Linked DNA regions of Homo sapiens. The protein of the gene in region 2 interacts with the protein of the main gene of each other region in a biochemical or structural test. Each region holds a gene or a part of one and is shown on either strand. Other genes may lie near its edges.

Region 1 (3,751 bases), on a different chromosome or scaffold from region 2:
ACCTTTGTATTCCTGGCTCCTAGTACAGTCCCAGGAACATTATAGTTGGGCACTAAATATTTAATGTGCATGAATGAATGTGAGCAAAGGGTGATACCATGCCAAGTGCTGTGATAAAGCCCAGATGGGGGCCTCTGCATCCACCTGGGGGACAGGAGGAAGAGTCTCTGGAAGAAGGTCGTCAGGGCTGGGTTTTGAGCCAGAACTATCCCAGCAGAGACCAGGAGCATGGGGCTCTTAGCAGTTCAAGGAGGGTGATGTGAGGCAGCGAGGCCAAGCTCTAATCAGACCGTGGGCAACTTGCTTAACAAGCTGGGCCCTGGTTTTCTCCGTGACGAAAGAAAAGGCTCCACTAGGTGGACACTGGCATTCAGAACATCATTCCAGATTCCCCAAAAACCATATAGTCCCACCTTCTCATTTCACAGGCAGGAAACTGAGTCACAGATGGGGCTGTTCCCTGCCCAGCCCCTTCGAGGAAAGCATGCGGGCTTTCCTTTCCTGAATGAGTCTGTGTCAAAGCTTCCTGTTCACAGTGTTTACTTTCTACACGCTTGCCCCCTAATTCTCACTTTCTCTTTTCTTTCCATTGATCTTGTCACTTTTTTATTTTCGGGGGGTGGCGGATGTGCTGTTCTGTCATCTCCCACTTTCCCATCACCTGATTCCTCCACCTGTCCACACGTGCCTGACTCCATCACATGCCGGGGCCGGACTGCGCTCTTCCCACGCCTGGTGGAATGGTCGCTGGGCACTCCCAGTCGCTGGAGGAGCCGCTACTATGGAAAAGGACGCTACGGCCACCCTGACTTTAAGAGCTCCTGTCCGATTCTGGAGGAATAGTGTGTTCCTGTTACTTCCTTCGCTGGCTGCCTGTCTCTGGTTTTCCTGACACAAGCCCTGCTTCCTTTCTGTCGCCGCTTCCCAGCTTCTCCCATCTTTGTGTCATTTATTCTCGCAAACCAAAGTGAGGTTTCTGCAGCTGAAATGGCTTCCAGCAAGGGTCACACAGGCTTGCATTTTTCGCTGGGTGAGAGAAGAGCCACAGCATGTGGCGGGGCCTTTGTCCACACCATGAGTGAATGGGTGGCTTGTCCCTGGGTCGGAGAAAATTCTGGTCATTGATTTGAGCCCCCAGGATCCCAGTCCCCCTGGCCAGAGCTCAAGAGAAGAGAATCCAGTTAAGCAGAAATACTCTTGGAAGTAGATTTTACTCGTCAAGGGCTAAGGAGCTGTGGGCATGTTCCATCCTCTTTATAAACGTGCTGCAACTGTGCCCTGCGGGAGCTTAGAGAGGGTTCTTTGTGCCCAGGATCCCTTCTGAGCATGCAGTGCAGCCAAGCCTGGGGGATGGAGTCCAGGATGGCCCTTTCTCTCTGGAAGAGAAAGGGAGTCCCCTGCCCAGCTGCTCTGGCCAGACCTCTAGCTCCCGACAGGCTCTGCATTGGGGCTATGATTCTGATGCTGTTCTTTGCTTTCTTCTCTTTCCCTCTGTAGGTTGTAGGCCTGGCTGCCTTGCATGCACCAGGGGCTTTCTTCCTCCTAATCAACAACTCAGCACCGTGACTTCTGCTAAAATGCAAAATGAGATGCGGGCACTAACCCAGGGGATGCCACCTCTGCTGCTCCAGTCGTCTCTCTCGAGGCTACTTCTTTTGCTTTGTTTTAAAAACTGGCCCTCTGCCCTCTCCACGTGGCCTGCATATGCCCAAGTAACTGCTCTCAGAGGATCCCACTAACTGAGCTCCCTCCAAGGCAGTCTGGGCAGCTTCTAACTACCTTCCTGGACATGACTGATTGCTCCCGTGTTCTTCTGAGGGCTGGTCTTGTTTTTGTTTGGGTGGCTCTGTCTCACTGCTAACACCTTAGTGAGATGCCTTCCACCCTCCTGAGCACACCAGCCTCCCACTGGGTGTGTGCCTAGTGCGGGGCGGGCGGAGGTTGGGAGGGTGTTGGCTTGGCTTTTAACCTGTGGGGATTTTGTCCAACAAGGAGTGGAATGATTTCAGAGCTGCCCTGAGGCTGGCACCCTGGTCACAGGAACCCTCTGCGCTGGCTCCTGTCTCAGTCCCCTCTGTAGAGTTAGATCAGAAGACACAGAAAGTTCTGTGGCCATGAAAGATACCAGCTTGGAAGGGTTGTGTCTTCAGTGGCACCCTCAGAAAAATTGTCTTAAAGCAAAGAGGTACCTGGCTCCAGACAATTTTTCTGATGAAAACAAAGTCTCTGCCCCGTCCCCACCCTGCCACCCTGGCAAAGTTACTTCCTTTACAGCTGCCCAGTGTACCATAGACCAGACCCCAGGTCAGCATTTGTCAAGAGCATGGCTGCTGAGTCCCCTGTGGCAGTCAATGCACTGTTTACCAAATGCAGGTTTCTGTTCTCCCTCCCCAGCAAGACCTGCTGAACCCAGATCTCTGGAATGGGGCCCTAGGAATTTGCATTTCAACCTGCTTCCCAGGTGGCCCTGATGCACCCCAGTATTAGAGTTTATTGCTAAAAGGAACATGCCCTGTCACTCCTGGTATCCTGGGAGTCATGTTTCTCTTCTCTCTCAGTTCTACTTGGAGCAAGAGCTTTCCTGGGCTGCAAATGAGAAAACAATTCCTAGGAACCCACAGCAGTACTGAGCATGCTGGGAGCTTGGGACTTGGAGATGAATGAGCCACCGTTGCTGCTCCAAGTAGGACTACTTGGAGTGTAGCTGAGGCCTTGGACGCAGTATGACCAGGGGCAGCTCTGCCAGGGCTGTTGGCCAATCAGTCATTTTCATTTCTTGTTGGAGGCCAGGTCCTCTGCTGAACTCATTTCCTAGCTAGTGTTACCCTAATTCTGATGAAGATCAATGGGGCTATAATTCTTGTTTTTGTTCCTCTTTGCAGCATTAACAGCAGCAAAGTTGTACCCCGGTTTGAAAGGTTTGGCTTGGGCGTCCTGGAGTCCAGTAATCCAAAGATGTAGCCAGCCATATGGTTTTTCGCTGCTGATCTCTTTCTTTTTAAAATGTGTTTCTGAAACATCCCAACAACCACCACGACAAAAAAACACTGCCTGCCCAGCGCTGCAAACCAGGAGCACACGTCCTAGATTCAGACTGTTGGCCATAAACCCCACTCGGGAGATGGAGCTGCACCTGCTATTTCTTAAAATGACACCACCAACAACCAAACCTGTCATGACAGACAGCAAATGTTTACACGTATATTTCTCCTGAGTGAACCTGATGTTTTACAATAGGTAATAATAAAAACAGTCTGTGCAGATGCACTGGCACTGACGGCCAGGATGGCGGAAATGGCCATCCCCTCTGAGGACCTTGTAGGCGGTGAGGGACCCATGCTGGGCCAGAAGGAAGACAAACATGGTAATTGCAGCTGTTCTTGGGGTAGGGCGGGGAGCCCAGAAGGTCTGATCTGGCCTCTGCTTTTTGGCCCAAGACTCCATCAGGGAAATCTATCTAGGGCTCTCCCCTTGTCCTTTCAAAGGGATACTGCCCCTTCCTCGTCTTGCAGAGGAAACCCTGGCTAGGAACTGAGCTAGTTTATGGAGTCTGGAATTCCTGGAGAGCTTGGGTTCACCTTCTCACCCCTGTAATCCAGGCTGCTCCTGCTGGAAAAGTAGAAACAGAATCCAAAAAAGGTCTGGACTCACCCGGTGGTTCCCAGCCAGGGTTTCTGCTGCAAGGTGAGGAAACATCCATGGCTTGTACAGATGTGAGTCTTTGATGAAGCCCCCAGGCAGGCACCAAGGT
Region 2 (3,751 bases):
ACAGCCCAGCAAAGCTAAAATATTAGGCTGCTGTAGCCCAGTTGATAAGAAGCCCAGAGTGAATGGCAGACACCAAGTGCAGCTGATACATGAGATTCCAGACCTAGATTTCACTGCAGCACGAGAGCCTCAAACTAAGCTTTGCTTTTTTTTTTCACTCTCTGGCTCTTGGAAGGAAAGAACAACTCATGCTGCTTTGGGGAATTCCACAAGGGTTCAGAATCAGCATACTAAAAAAGGACTTGGTCTCAGAATGCCGATTCCCTGAACTTAGGAAAGGGAAGGAGAAAAAGGACCTCTTGAATAAAGTCAAATACTTGGAATGGTTCATTTCTGCTGGTGGCTCTTTTTAATTCTGGAAGGGTTGCAATGGGCTTGTACACAGAGGGGTTCGGCCCCTGCACTCACGTGGTATCGTCCCAGCGCTGTAGACACTGGCTGTGGAAGCTGTGGTTACATAACGTTGTGAGGATGCCATTCACAGACTCGTCCATGCGCTCCAGACACACCGTGCACTTGGGGAGTTCAGTCAGGTCCATCACTGGGAGGCTGGCGCCCTACAGGAAACACCTCACATAAGCCTCACTCTTCATCTACCAGCAATACTTTATTTTTCCTTCTTTTTTCTGAGACAGGGTCTCGCTCTCTGTCACCCACGCTGGAGCCCAGTGGCGCAATCATGGCTCATTACAGCCTTGACCTCCCAGGCTCAAGAGATCTGCCCACCTCAGGCTCCCCAGTAGCTGGGACTACAGGCATGAGCCACTGTGCCAGGCCTTTCTTCTTTTAATAATAGTTTTCTAGTTGCTTTTTTGACTCCTGGCAGGATATCCTCAATATCATTACTCTAAGCAAGTAATTTAAATTGGTAATATTTTCATTCATTTATTCATTCATTCAAGAAACAGGGATGGAGTACCTCCTGTGTTCCAGCACTGTGCCAGGTACTGGGAGTACAGCGGTGAACAAAACAAAGATCTCTGCCCTTACAGAACTGACATTCCAGGAAGGGAGACTGCTGTCAAAACCTTAACATATAAATCTCAAATGTGACCAGACTCCTAGCTCAAGCTCTAAGTGTCTACGACTATAATAGAACACAAAGGAACAAAAGAATAGCTGGACCTGAAGGATTTTTCCATAGAGTAAGTTATAACTTAACACTTTCTACTCAGTGATGACAGCACCAACAACACTGATTTTTCTTTATTCCCTCATTGTACAGATAGAGATTGAGCCCCTGCTATGTGCAGCAGACAGACACTGTTCTAGGTGTGGAACAGTGGTGAGCAAAAACAGATACGTTAAGTCCAAAAAACAGTCAGCTCCTGCCCCCACAGAGTTTAGAATCTAGTGGAGGGAGAGACAAAAATCAAATTAAAAAGCAAACAGTACAGGAAGCCACAACAGGGTGTGAATTAGGGGGCATGACAGTCTAGATGGTCAGGAAAGGCATTCCTAAGACAGTGCTTGACTTGACGCTTCCAGCCAGAAGACGAGAAAGAATTACTTAGGCAAAGGTCAGGGAGCACACACTTATGGACAGAGAAAAAGCACATTAACCTACAGTCCCTGAAGAGTAGATACTTACAGGAAATCTCTCAAGAAGCCACGTTCATTTAAGAAAGGAATCTCTAAAACTGAGGCCTCGTGCAGCAGCCAGCACAAAGGATGCCCAATTTTATCACGTCAATTTTTTTTTGAGTTTGACAAATTTATCGGTATTTTAGTAAAGACATTCATCTCAGTTGTTTCTCTCTCCCAGCTTGACCTTAGGTTAATATTTCATTTGGGTCAAGAAAAGAATATCTAGGAGAGGTATGTTAACAAACAGGAAAATGGACAAAAATTGATAGTTTGCCTACATTAAAGTAAGTTAAATTCATGTATTTTGATATAATTAAATCATGTAAGAACTAAGAGTTCTATATACATTTCCATTGTTTTACTTGGGGCTCATTCTAAACTTAAATGCTAGTGAACAAGTGTTAGGAATATACACAGGATGCTTCTCTGGAGTTATTACCAACTAAAAGAGCTCAGCGAGCAGTTACCACCAATAAAACAGTCTGAAGCTGCCTCCAAATATAATATTGTAGGAGTTTTCAAGGAAATGTTTATACTGTATGCTTCTTTTGTCTGTGACTATGCTTTTAAAGATGTGTTTAACTGTCACATTAAAAAAGATGCCGGGCGGGGTGGCTCACGCCTGTTAAGTCCAGCACTTTGGGAGGCCGAGGCGGGTGGATCACAAGGTCAGGAGTTCAAGATCAGCCTGGCCAAGAGGGTGAAACCCTGTCTCCACTAAAAACACAAAAAATTAGCCGGGTGTGGTCGTGGGTGCCTGTAATCCCAGTTACTTGGGAGGATGAGGCAGAGAATTTCTTGAACCCAGGAGGTAGAGGATGCAGTGAGCTGAGATCACACCACTGCACTCCAGCCTGGGAGACAGAGTGAAACTCCGTCTCAAAAAAAAAAAAAAAAAAAAAAAGCTCATACACAATACAAAAATACAAAAACTAACACCCTACAATATACAAATCTCACAAAGTATATGTGGTGAGATTCCAAAAAAATGTTTGAAGATGCATTTTCTTTCCTTCTACTCCAGTATCTAAAATGTGCTTTTTGAGAGGCCATTGGTCAACATGTATACATTTAAAATCAACCATGTAATTTTACTAGTAAGAAAGCTGGGGCTGGCACGGTGGCTCACACCCGTAATCCCAGCACTTTGGGAGGCCAAGGCAGGCGGATCACGAGGTCAAGAGTTTGAGACCAGCCTGGCCAACGTGGTGAAACCCCATCTCTACTAAGAACACAAAAATTAGCTGGGCATGGTGGTGCATACCTGTAATCCCAGCTACTCAGGAGGCTGAGGCAGGAGAATCACTTGAACCTGGGAGGCATAGGCTGCAGTGAGCCGAGACTGCTCCAATGCACTCCAGCCTGGGCGACAGAGCAAGACTCCGTCTGGGTCGGGGCGGGGTGTGGGGGAAGCCAGTAGTTAAGTTCAATTTAAATTGGATTCACAAGTTAGTAATTTAAATCCTCAGACAAAGTTACAGAAAGTGTATCTTCTTGTTTTCCATCTTCATACAATGTTAATTTTTTTTTTTTTGGTGTTTATACTTTTTAAAAAAATAAAAATAGTCAAATGCTTAATATGTACATTTAATTTTTTGGTGGTGGTTTGTATTTTAAAAGAAACAGCTTCCTTATGATTTGGCTCAAGTTCTGGTGGAAATGCTTACAGCAACTAGCTAATAAACAAAAAACAAGAGAAGCACATTCGAAATACTGATTTACTTTGGTAGCAAATGGTTTTTCTTTGAAGACAAATGAAGATACACAAGACCCATTAAGGTGAAGTGGGCTATTTCAAATATTCAACAGTTTACATTAAAAAGAATTCTTTTTTTTTTTTTTTAATTTGTTTTTTTTGAGACAGAGTCTCGCTCTGTCGCCCAGGCTGGAGTGCAGTGGCACAATCTCGGCTCACTGCAAGCTCCGCCTCCCGGGTTCACGCCATTCTCCTGCCTCAGCCTCCCGAGTAGCTGGGACTACAGGTGCCCACCACAACGCCTAGCTAATTTTTTGTATTTTTAGTAGAGATGGGTTTTCACCATGTTAACCAAGATGGTCTCGATCTCCTGACCTCGTGATCCACCCTCAACCTCCCAAAGTGCTGGGATTACAGGCGTGAGCCACTGCGTCTGGCCAAAAAAAATTCTTTTAAGAGCTAAGCATC

Evidence for each region. The genes of interacting proteins can lie anywhere in the genome.
Region 1: the proteins of BRAP (region 2) and KSR1 form a complex in vitro, tested with the Homo sapiens proteins (one study listed by BioGRID).

Annotation. Positions count from the first base shown.
Region 1 is NC_000017.11:27,620,432-27,624,182, forward strand, and holds part of KSR1 (kinase suppressor of Ras 1), read left to right. Parts: intron 1-761; coding exon 762-842; intron 843-1,497; coding exon of another isoform or gene 1,498-1,504; exon of another isoform or gene 1,505-2,882; coding exon 2,883-2,961; 3' UTR 2,962-3,751.
Region 2 is NC_000012.12:111,665,231-111,668,981, forward strand, and holds part of BRAP (BRCA1-associated protein), read right to left. Parts: exon of another isoform or gene 3,728-3,751; intron 3,410-3,727; exon of another isoform or gene 3,005-3,409; intron 2,698-3,004; exon of another isoform or gene 2,490-2,697; intron 2,186-2,489; exon of another isoform or gene 1,701-2,185; intron 558-1,700; coding exon 409-557; intron 1-408. UniProt on the Homo sapiens protein: Negatively regulates MAP kinase activation by limiting the formation of Raf/MEK complexes probably by inactivation of the KSR1 scaffold protein.